Linked DNA regions of Homo sapiens. The gene in region 3 interacts genetically with the main gene of each other region. Each region holds a gene or a part of one and is shown on either strand. Other genes may lie near its edges.

Region 1 (3,655 bases), on a different chromosome or scaffold from region 3:
CTATGATCCCTTCCTCCCCATCCCACTGATACTCCACTCCCACTTTCAAAAAGTATTCCATTTTCTGAGTTGACACAATGGCCCTCAGGTTGCCTTGAATTACTTATCTTCCCTATTATTAGTAATAGTAGTAGTAGTATTATACTTTAAATTCTAGGGTACATGTGCACAATGTCCAGGTTTATTACATATGTATACATGTGCCATGTTGGTTTGCTGCACCCATTAACTCGTCATTTACATTAGGTATTTCTCCTAATGCTATCCCTCCCCCATCCCCCCACCCCACGACAGGCGCTGATGTGTGATGTTCCCAGCCCTGTGTCCAAGTGTTCTCATTGTTCAATTTCCACCTATGAGTGAGAACATGCGATGTTTGGTTTTCTGTCCTTGCGATATTTGCTCAGAATGATGGTTTCCAGCTTCATCCATGTCCCTACAAAGGACATGAACTCATCCTTTCTTATGGCTGCATAGTATTCCATAGTGTATATGTGCCACATTTTCTTAATCCAGTCAATTACTTATCTTCTTATATGTACTTACTGGTTCTTCTGCTTGAAGCCCAGTATCTGTGTTAATTTGTATATCTCTATATTACTTTGTATCAACAAAGCACCATGTTCATAGCAGATACTAAAAATATTTGTTGATAATGTCACACCACCAAATGGATAAGCTAAGGGTAGCATAGCTGACTTTCTAGAAGAGAATGAAGTAAGCTTTATTTTTATATCAAAGTTGCTATCAGTTACCAGGGAGATGCAAACCAGTAAAGGGTCATACTATAATTGTTGCTAACACTTGAATTCATCTCTTTAGACTTATTTTCCCTCATATTTCATCATCTGTTCCTTTTTCTCTTCCTCTTCATTATTACAACACTTTTCTTTTGTCTTTCCTTATTCAATGACCTGATTTGTCAGTGATCAAATTCTAAAAATTTCCCTCAATCTGAACTTCTAGTGAACTTCGATCCATGTTTATACTGAAATTTCAGATCCAAAAAGTCTTTCCTTTACCCCACCCTCCTTCACTTGGTGCAGTGTAGCAACAGGTGCACCTTGGACCGTAATTGAGGAACTTTCACTGGACTCTTGTGAATTTGCACCATCCAGTGGCTGAAATTGCTAACTGCATCCTCTGAAAAAAGGCAGTGGGCACAAATAAAAAAATGTAAAATGGGGGCTGGGCGCGGTGACTCACTCCTGTAATCCCAGCACTTTGGGAGGCCGAGGCAGGTGGATCACAAGGTCAAGAGATTGAGACCATCCTGGCTAACACTGTGAAACCCCGTCTTTACTAAAAATACAAAAAATTAGCTGGGCGTGGTGGCGCGCGCCTGTACTCCCAGCTACTCAGGAGCCTGAGGCAGGAGAATCACTTGAACCAGGTAGGCGGAGGTTGTAGTGAGCCGAGATCGCACCACTGCACTCCAGCCTGGGTGACAGAGCGAGACTCTGTCTCAAAAAAAAAAAAAAAACAGTTTGGCCTCCTCTTCTAGCTGTTGTGGTATCACTTTTTTTTTTTTTTTTTTTTTTGAGACGAAGTTTCGCTCTTGTTGCCCAGGCTGGAACGCAACGGTGCAATCTCAGCTCACTGCAATCTCCGCCTCCTGGGTTCAAGTGATTCTCCTGCCTCAGCCTCCCGAGTAGCTGGGATTACAGACATGCGCCACCATGCCCTGCTAATTTTGTATTTTTAGTTGAGATGTGGTTTCTCCATATTGGTCAGGCTGTCTCGAACTCCTGACCTCAGGTGATCCGCCCACCTTGGCCTCCAAAAGTGCTGGGATTATGGGATTACAGGCGTGAGCCACCATGCCCGGGCTTTTTTTTTGAGACAGAGTCTGGCACTGTTGCCCAGGCTGGAGTGCAGTGACACGATCTCAGCTCACCGCAACCTCAGTCTCCTGAGTTCAAGCGATTCTCCTGCCTTAGCCTCCCGGGTAGCTGGGATTACAGGCGCCTGCCACCATGCCCAGCTAGTTTTTGTATTTTTAGTAGAGACAGGGTTTCACCATGTTGGCTAGGCTAGTCTCGAACTACTGACTTCAAGTGACCCACCCACATCAGCCTCTCAAAGTGCTGGGATTACAGGCGTGAGCTACTGCATCGGGCTTTCATCATATCCTTATGAAACGCTTATGAATTAGACATTATTATTTTCATTTTACATAGGAGGAGAAAGGAGATGCAGGAAGATAATAACTTCCCTAAATTCTTTTTTTTTTTTAGATGGAGTTTCACTCTTGTTGCCCAGGCTGGAGTGCAATGGTGGGATCTCGGCTCACGGCAACCTCTGCCTCCTGGGTTCAAGCGATTCTCCTGCCTCAGCCTCCCAAGTAGTTGGGATTATAAGCATGCACCACCATGCCCGGCTAATTTTTTATATTTTTAGTAGAGATGGGGTTTCACCATGTTGGCTAGGCTGGTCTCGAACTCCTGATCTCAAGTGATCCACCCGCCTCAGCCTCCCAAAGTGCTGGGATTATAGGCATGAGCCACCGCACCAGGCCCTAAATTCTTAAAGGTGATAAGGAGTGGAGACAGAATTCAAATTCAGGAAAGTTTCAAAGTCCATGCTTGCTTTTTCAATTATATTAAACAATGCCAAGTTCCTTGCATATTCCAAGCATTTATTGGGCACCTGTTGGTTGCACAAGAGTATAGACTGCCTGTCACCAAATGATGCAAAATAATTTAGGAGCCTGTTTTGACAGTCACAAGATGGAGGTCCTGTACATTAGGCAGAAAAGTATGCAGCTAGGCAGCCTAGTAGGCATTTTAGAATTGTCTGATAAACCGAGCCACTTAGCAACAATATATTTCTAGTTCACCTAATTTTTTGGGTTCTGCCCAAAGGCTGGTGACTCATGAGACAGATATTCCGCACTCTGTGTACATGAGAAAGAAGTCAGTAAGGTGAGGAAGAAGCAGAAGAGATGGGTAACGAAGGCCTGGATTCACGAAAACTGTTTAATGGCCATGGTATTATGAAAATCCTGATGCCAGCCAACTCTTGAGTGTTAAATAATGAGAGTCAGTTTATTAGTTATATTTGGACAGATCTGGTTTTTTGCTTTATTTTTATAAATAATGTTCTAAGAAATTTATTTTATTTAATTTACTTATGGCATATTTAAACATTTTTTGGCAAATAAAAATTGTGTATATTCATGATGTACAACATGTGTTGATAGATGTACTCATTGTGGAATGGCTAAATCAAGCTAATTAACAAATCCATTACCTCAAATATATACCCATTACCGCAAATACTTATTTTTTTGTGTGGTAAGAACAACTAAAATCTACTCTCTTAGCAATTTTCAAGCATATATATATTTTTGTTTGTTTGTTTGTTTTTGTTTTTGAGACAGGGTCTTGCTCTGTTGCCCAGGCTGGAGTGCAGTGATGCAATCTTGGCTCACTGCAACCTCTGCCTCCCGGGTTCAAGTGATTCTCATGCCTCAGCCTCCTGAGTAGTTGGGATTACAGGCATGCACCACCACGCCTGGCTAATTTTTGTATTTTTAGTAGAGATGGGGTTTCACCATGTGGGCCAGGCTGGTCTCAAACCCCTGACCTCAGATGACCCACCTGCCTCAGCCTCCCAAAGTGCTGGGATTACAGGTGTGAGCCACAGTGCCTGG
Region 2 (3,655 bases), on a different chromosome or scaffold from region 3:
AATTTTTTGTATTTTTAGTAGAGACGGGGTTTCACCATGTTGGCCAGGCTGGTCTTGAACTCCTGGCCTCGTGATCCACCCGCCTCAGCCTCCCAAAGTGCTGGGATTACAGGCGTAAGCCACAGTGCCTAGCCTGGACAGTTATCTTAAGGCATAGATTTTTACTTAGGATGTACAGCTTTCAGATTTGTAGGCAAGGAAAATGAAATTTTCTTTCAAAATAGGGTTTAAACATAGATAGGTTTTAAAAATAAAATCTCCTACTTTCTAGAAGACACATACACTGAAACACCAGAAACATTTGGAACATCAGTTTCCTCTATGTGTTGCTGGTCAAAGACTCAACCTCTTTTTTCTTTCTTTTCCTTAAAAGGTAACCCCTAAACACAGCTAAAACTATGCCATCAGCTGACTCCAAGGTACACACAGTCCTGTATCTGGAACTACTGAGTGGCAGGCATCTTTCTCTGCCTCTGACAGTGGAGTCCCCATCACTGCAGAGCATAGCCAAAGGAGTCAAAGGTCTCAGCGGGTCACTGCCTTATCAACCCTCACCAGTCCCTTATGTTTTTTAATATTTTATAATCTTGACATGACACCAAGATGCTTTAATAAAAAAGCACCTCTAACTCGGTCTTGTATTCACTTACCTTGAGCCTGGGACTTCTCTAGGCTCCTGAGGCAAAAACAGGTAGAGGGGAGATGGTGGAACATAAAACACAATTTTGCTTGGCACCCACCTTGGCGTCTGTCCCCATGACCAGGTCTTTCAATTCGATGATTTTGTCATTGATGGAGGAGCGATATCGTTTCTCAATGATATTATGGGTTGTCCGCCTTTCTCCTTCTTTGGGGGGCTCAAGCTGCTTGACTCCCCCAGGTACCTGCTTAATGGGCACTTTCTCTTGCCCCATCATTACAGGCATTGTGGTCAGAATGGTCCCACTGCTGCCCACCAGGGTCTAGAATAGGGACAGGTACACAGCAGAATGATCCCTTTGTTAGTCTGCATAAAGCAACCTCAACACAGACCTGCCCGCTTTGGCCAAGTGCTGCCAGACCTGGCAGTACTTCATGAGGTCTGAGACTCTTCCTGGGTTAATCAAATCAGGCCCCAAGAAGTCTCAGGAGCCACGGAACCTTGGTTACTACCTCCCTTCAAGAATCACTGCTGATAAACTACACCACAAGAGGATTAACATGGCTAAATATGTTTTAAGTTTTGATCTACGTATGCCAGAAACAAGTCATATGATTTCTGCTTTGCTGTCAAACTGTTAACCACTTCTAAAGTTGTACACGGTGAACCACGAGTTGGCACCAGAGAAAACTTTCTCCTAGTGTATGACACATTTTTTCCTCTCAAATGACAATTAAGCAAATTACTGCATTTCTTTATACAATTTTGCCATCAAAAAGCTCAAGGGCAGAAGTGACACTCTCAATAAGAGCCATTTGATTAAGTAAATAGGCCAACCATGGAGGTCTCCCCTTTTTATTCTTCATCTCTGTTTTCTCCTCTTATTTTTTCTAACTTTATTTTATTTTATTTTATTTTTTTTGAGACGGAGTTTCGCTCTTGTTGCCCAGGCTGGAATGCAATGGTGTGATCTCGGCTCACCACAAACTCTGCCTCCCAGCTTCAAGTGATTCTGCTGCCTCAGCCTCCCGAGTAGCTTGGATTACAGGCATGCGCCACCATGCCTGGCTAATTTTGTATTTTTAGTAGAGACGGGGTTTCTCCATGTTGGTCAGGCTGGTCTCAAACTGCTGACCTCAGGTGATCCACCCGCCTTGGCCTCCCAAAGTGCTGGGATTACAGGCGTGAGCCACCACGTCCTGTTTTTTTGTTTTTGTTTTTTTTTTTGAGACAAAGTCTCACTCTGTTGCCCAAAAGCTGGAGTGCAGTGGCGTGATCACAGCTTACTACAACCTGCACCCCCCTGGTTCAAGTGATTCTCCTGCCTCAGCCTCCTGAGTAGCTGGGAATACAGGCACCCACCACCACACCTGGCTCATTTTTGTATTTTTAGTAGAGATGGGATTTCATCATGTTGGCCAGGCTGATCTCAAACTACTGACCTCAGGTGATCTGCCCACCTCAGCCTCCCAAAATGCTGGGAATACAGGCGTGAGCCACTGGGCCTGGACCAATTTTAGTTTAATTTCTTAAATAATGGCCTCAATATCTAATCAGCCAATAAATAAATAAAAAGGTGCCCAATTTCATTAGTTGCCAATAAGTACGTCATGCACAATAAAAACCACAAATCTTAAGTTTATAGCTTGATGAATTTTACATATGTACACAATGTATATAACCACCCAGACCAAGATATAGCCCATTTCTACCAGCTCAGAAAGTCCCCGCATGCCCCTCCCCTCCTTGTCACCACCGCTCTGAATTCCAGCACCATAGCTTCATTTTGCCTCTTTTTAAACTTCATATAAATGGACTCATTAGCATGAACTCCTTTGGCTTGACACACTATTTCTTTTTTTTTTTTTTTGAGACGGAGATTTGCTCTGTCGCCCGGGCTGGAGTGCAGTGGCGCAATCTTGGCTCACTGCAAGCTCCACCTCCCAGGTTCACGACATTCTCCTACCTCGGCCTCCCGAGTAGCTAGGACTACAGGTGCCCGCCACCATGCCCGGCTAATTTTTTGTATTTTTAGCAGAGACGGGGTTTCACCATGGTAGCCAGGATGGTCTCGATCTCCTGACCTCATGATCTACCCACCTCGGCCTCCCAAAGTGCTGGGATTACAGGTGTGAGCCACTGCGCCCGGTGGCTTGACACACTATTTCTGAGGGACAGCCCCATGTTGTTTCATGCATCAGTAGCTTTTTTTTTTTTTTTTGAGAGTCAGTCTCGTTCTGTCATCCAGGCTGGAGTGCAGTGGTGCGATCTCGGCTCACTGCAGCTTCCACCTCTCAGGTTCAAGCAATTCTCCTGCCTCAGCCTCCTGAGTAGCTGGGATTACAGGCATGCACCATGCACCACCATACCCAGCTAATTTTTGTATTTTTAGTAGAAATGGGGTTTCACCGTGTTGGCCAGGCTGGTCTCAAACTCCTGACCTCAGGTGATCCACCCCTCTTGGCCTCCCAAAGTGCTGAGATTACAGGCGTGAGCCACCGTGCCTGTCAGCAGTTCTGTTTTTTAATTGCTAGGCATAATTTCATTGTATGAATATATCACAATGTGCTTATTTTCCTGTGGATGGACATTTGAGTTGCTTCCAGTTCTTGGATTTTATGAATAAAGCTAGTGCTTCTAAATTTTAATCACCATTTACTCTATCAGATTCTCATGCTATAGGATGCTGAAAGTGGCTAAGAACCTACAACTGAAGGATGGGGTACCTTCCATGTTCTTCACCTTGGAGCCCTTCCCTGCCTGGTGGCCCTAGGGTCCTTCAGAAGTCATCAGCAGGATCTAAGAGGTGAATGGTCTTGTGTGGAGCTATTAGCCAAGAATAGAGGGTCCTTCTGCTATTCTTTTCTACCTCCTTGTAGACTCCAGTACTCCCACATCGAACACACATTGCTAATACTTTTTCGAGCGAAAAACAACTAAGAGGGGTGACATTTACAATTTGACTGATTTGTGCTATAGACCCTCCCATACCTACTCAGCATATAGAGATTTAAC
Region 3 (3,655 bases):
AAGAAGCACTTAACTGTCAGGGAGTTTGTATCCTAGCTGCGGAAAGAAGCAAGCAGCTTCCAGGTACTCAAGTACAATGTAAAAAGGAAATCAGTTGAAAGAAAACATGAGCTCTGTTTTTCTTAGTCTTCTCAGTGTAACAAATTTTAGCATAATGTTCAATAATATTTTTCAGTCACATATTTTAAAGAAAGAACTGTATACCTACATATGTGAAACAGTGATGAGATAACCCACGAAAAGCCTGTAGCACAGTATACAGTATCCGCTCAGCCTTTAATAAATGTCAGCTATAATTATTACCATTGTTATTCTTTATAAAAAGTAAAGGCTTGAAGCCAGACACAAAAGCCTACTTACTGTATGACTCCATTTATGTAACATTCTGGAAAAGGTAAAATACAAGGACAGACATCTTATCAGTAGTTGGCTGGATCTAGGTTGCAGAGAAGTTATTAACTACAAAAGGGTGAGTGACCTTTGTTGGGTAGTGGAAATTTCCTGTACCTTGATACCTTTTTTTTTTTTTTTTTTGTAGAGACAGGGTCTCACTATGTTGCCCAAGCTGGTCTCAAACTCCTGGGCCTAAGTGATCCTCCCGCCTTGGCCTCCCAAATTGTTGGGACTACAGGTGTGAGCCATCGGCGCTGGCCCTATACCTTGATATATTCTATCAAACCTCTCAGAACTCTTACACCTAAAAAAGGTTAATTTTACTGTATGCAAGTTATACCTATATAAACCTGACTTTTTAAAAAGGAAAGGCTTAGGCAATCCCTAGTTTTAGGTCTCAAAAAAAAAAAATAGTGCAGCTGATACATTTGACCATGTGAAAAACAGAACTGTAGGGGTTTTTTGTTTGTTTGTTTTTTGAGATGGGGTCTTGCTCTGTCGCCCAGGCTGGGGTGCAATGGTGCGATCTCGGCTCACTGCAGCCTCCGCCTCCCGGGTTCAAGCAAGAATTGTAGGGTTTTATAGTTTCTCAAAAGGCTTGGAAAGAATTAGTGATTAATACCAGAAAACTAAGCAAATGAAAAAATAATGCAATTGTCAGCTCCAGGAAAAACAAAAAGCTTTAGAAGAAAATAGATTAAATCACACTACACTATTTGGCTTGATAGTAAATGAATCTTTCAGAGTTATAATAATGTAAACACAGAATACTGATTTATTTTTAAATTACTATGAAGCTGAAAGGGGAAAGGAAGCCAATGTGATGGTGTAAGAAGACTAAATGCTCATATCCCATACTAAAAGCTTAACAGATAATGCCTAAAATTGACAGACGAAGAAATAGCAATGAGAGACAATACAGGAGGGGAGTATGATTACAAGCACCGATTCTGGAGCTAGACTACCTAGGTTCTTTAACACCTACTAATGATAGTGAGGTTGTACAAACTGTTTAACCTTTCTGTGCTTAAGTGTCCTCATCGGTAAAAGGAAACAATAATAGACCCTGCTTCATAGGGGTTGTTGAGATTAAATAAGCTAATGGCTGTAAAGCACTTAGAACAGTACCTAGTATATAACAGGTATTACCTAAGGATTACAGATTAGTAATAACAGTCAATTAATATTATTATTTAGAAATCCAAAGGTAAATACCAGAAGACATAGGGGAAAGGAGCTGAAAGTGGCTGTCACTGGGCAGAGGGATTTATGGGTGAAAAGGAGAGGTCTGGAATTTTTTTTTTTTTTTTTTTTTAAGACAGAGTCTCACTCTGTTGCCCAGGCTGGAGTGCAGTGGTGCAATCTCAGGTCACTGCAACCTCCAACTCCCGGGTTCAAGCAATTCTCCTGCCTCAGCCTCCTGGAGTAGCTGGGACTACAGGCACGTGCCACCACACATGACTAATTTTTGTATTTTTAGTAGAGATGGGGTTTCACCATGTTGGCCAGGCTGGTCTTGAACTCCTGACCTTAGGTGGTCCACCCGCCTCGGCCTCCGAAAGTGCTGGGATTACAGGCGTGAGCCACTGCGCCCGGCTTGGGACTACTTTTTTATTTTTTTCATTTAAAGGCCTATAGTACAATTTGGCTACTTATGTTAGAATACTTTGAAACCAATCAGAAATTCATTAAACAGAAGAAAAATTCCTGATTCTCATCGGAAATACAGATAAGCACAACTGTAACTTGTTTGACAGGAAGACTGATGCAGCATAAATAGCCCAGAGATAGTATTCTAATTAGCATTCCCTAATCGCACAAAGAGCATCTACGGGACCCCAGTGTGGCGTAAGGGCTGACCCTGTATTCACAGAGCTAGAAAGTGAGCTCAGAAATAACAGCAGGAATACTAACAAAAAAACAAGAAACCTCCCCAAACAGCATGTGACTGAACACCAAATGAGCAGTGCAGTGTGTGCAAGACAGAGCTCTATGGGCTGGTGTGGTCAAGAAAGGTTTCATGGAGATGGTGTGAAGGCTGAGAAGGCCTTGAAGAGGTTGAATAGAGAACTAAGGGCATTCCAGGAAGGCATCCTGTGCAGCTGAGGTGTAGGGATAAAGTTGGAAAGGTGCCAATGCCAGCCTAATGAGTTGGCCTCTATCCTACAGCCCTGGCTGCTTCTGTCATTAAGATCTTTCAGGAAAACAGATTAGTGGTTTAAAAACCCGGGATCTGGATCATGCCCCCTCCAATGACCAGTTATGTGACTACGGCTAAGTTACCTAGATATTCCCAAACCTCAATTTACTTATATATAACATCAGAAAAAGGTCTATTATAATACATCTAAGGATTGGTATGAGAATTAAGTGGATTTACCAGCAACCCTTGGCATAATACCTAGCAGAGTAAGCACTCAGTAAATGGTAGCTATCATAAGAAATTCTACAGGATCAACAACCTGGTTTCTTCAAGAAATAAATTCAAGGGGGTGACAGAAAAGCTACAAATTAAAAGTCTTAAGAGACATATCAACCAAATGCACTGTATAGACCTTGTTTAGATCTGGATTTAAATTAGCTACAAAATAATTATGAGACAACTGCAGAAATTTGAATATTGATCCCATATTTGATGACATTAAGGAATCACTGTTAACTTTTTAGGTTTGATAATGATACTATGTTTTTTTAAAAGAGTATCATTTAGAGATACATAATAAAATATTTATGGATAAAAGGATATAACATCTAGGATCTGCTTTAAAACAATCTAACATGAGGGAGTATAGATGAAGTAAGAGTGGCCACTTGCTCAGCTGGGTGCGATGGCTCACGTCTGTAATCCCAGCACTTTTGGAGGCTGAGGCTGGTGGATCACCTGAGGTCAGGAGTTCAAAACCAGCCTGACCAACATAGTGAAACCCCATCTCTACTAAACATACAAAAATTAGCCAGGCATGGTGGCAGGCGCCTGTAATCCCAGCTACTCGGGAGTCTGAGGCATGAGAATCGCTTGAACCCAGGAGGCAGAGGTTGCAGTGAGCCAAGACTGCACCACTGCACTCCAGCCTGGGCTACAGAGTGAGACTCTGTCTCAAAAAAAAAAAAAAAAAAAAAAAGAGTGGCCATTTGCTCATAAGCGTTGAAGCTAGGTGATGGACGTATGGGAGGTCACTGCACTACTTCACTTTCAGAAATTTTTGAAATTTTCCCTAATAAAAAGTTTAAAAACAAAAGTAAGTAGAATTGAGCAACTGGT

What was found.
Region 1: changes in HDAC3 (region 3) and ACACA together harm fitness more than expected from each alone (negative genetic interaction), as found in Homo sapiens cells (one large-scale study listed by BioGRID).
Region 2: changes in HDAC3 (region 3) and SREBF2 together harm fitness more than expected from each alone (negative genetic interaction), as found in Homo sapiens cells (one large-scale study listed by BioGRID).

The regions. Positions count from the first base shown.
Region 1 is NC_000017.11:37,396,763-37,400,417, forward strand, and holds part of ACACA (acetyl-CoA carboxylase 1), read right to left. Parts: intron 1-3,655. UniProt on the Homo sapiens protein: Cytosolic enzyme that catalyzes the carboxylation of acetyl-CoA to malonyl-CoA, the first and rate-limiting step of de novo fatty acid biosynthesis.
Region 2 is NC_000022.11:41,871,105-41,874,759, reverse strand, and holds part of SREBF2 (sterol regulatory element-binding protein 2), read right to left. Parts: intron 963-3,655; coding exon 741-962; intron 1-740.
Region 3 is NC_000005.10:141,630,334-141,633,988, forward strand, and holds part of HDAC3 (histone deacetylase 3), read right to left. Parts: intron 1-3,655. UniProt on the Homo sapiens protein: Histone deacetylase that catalyzes the deacetylation of lysine residues on the N-terminal part of the core histones (H2A, H2B, H3 and H4), and some other non-histone substrates.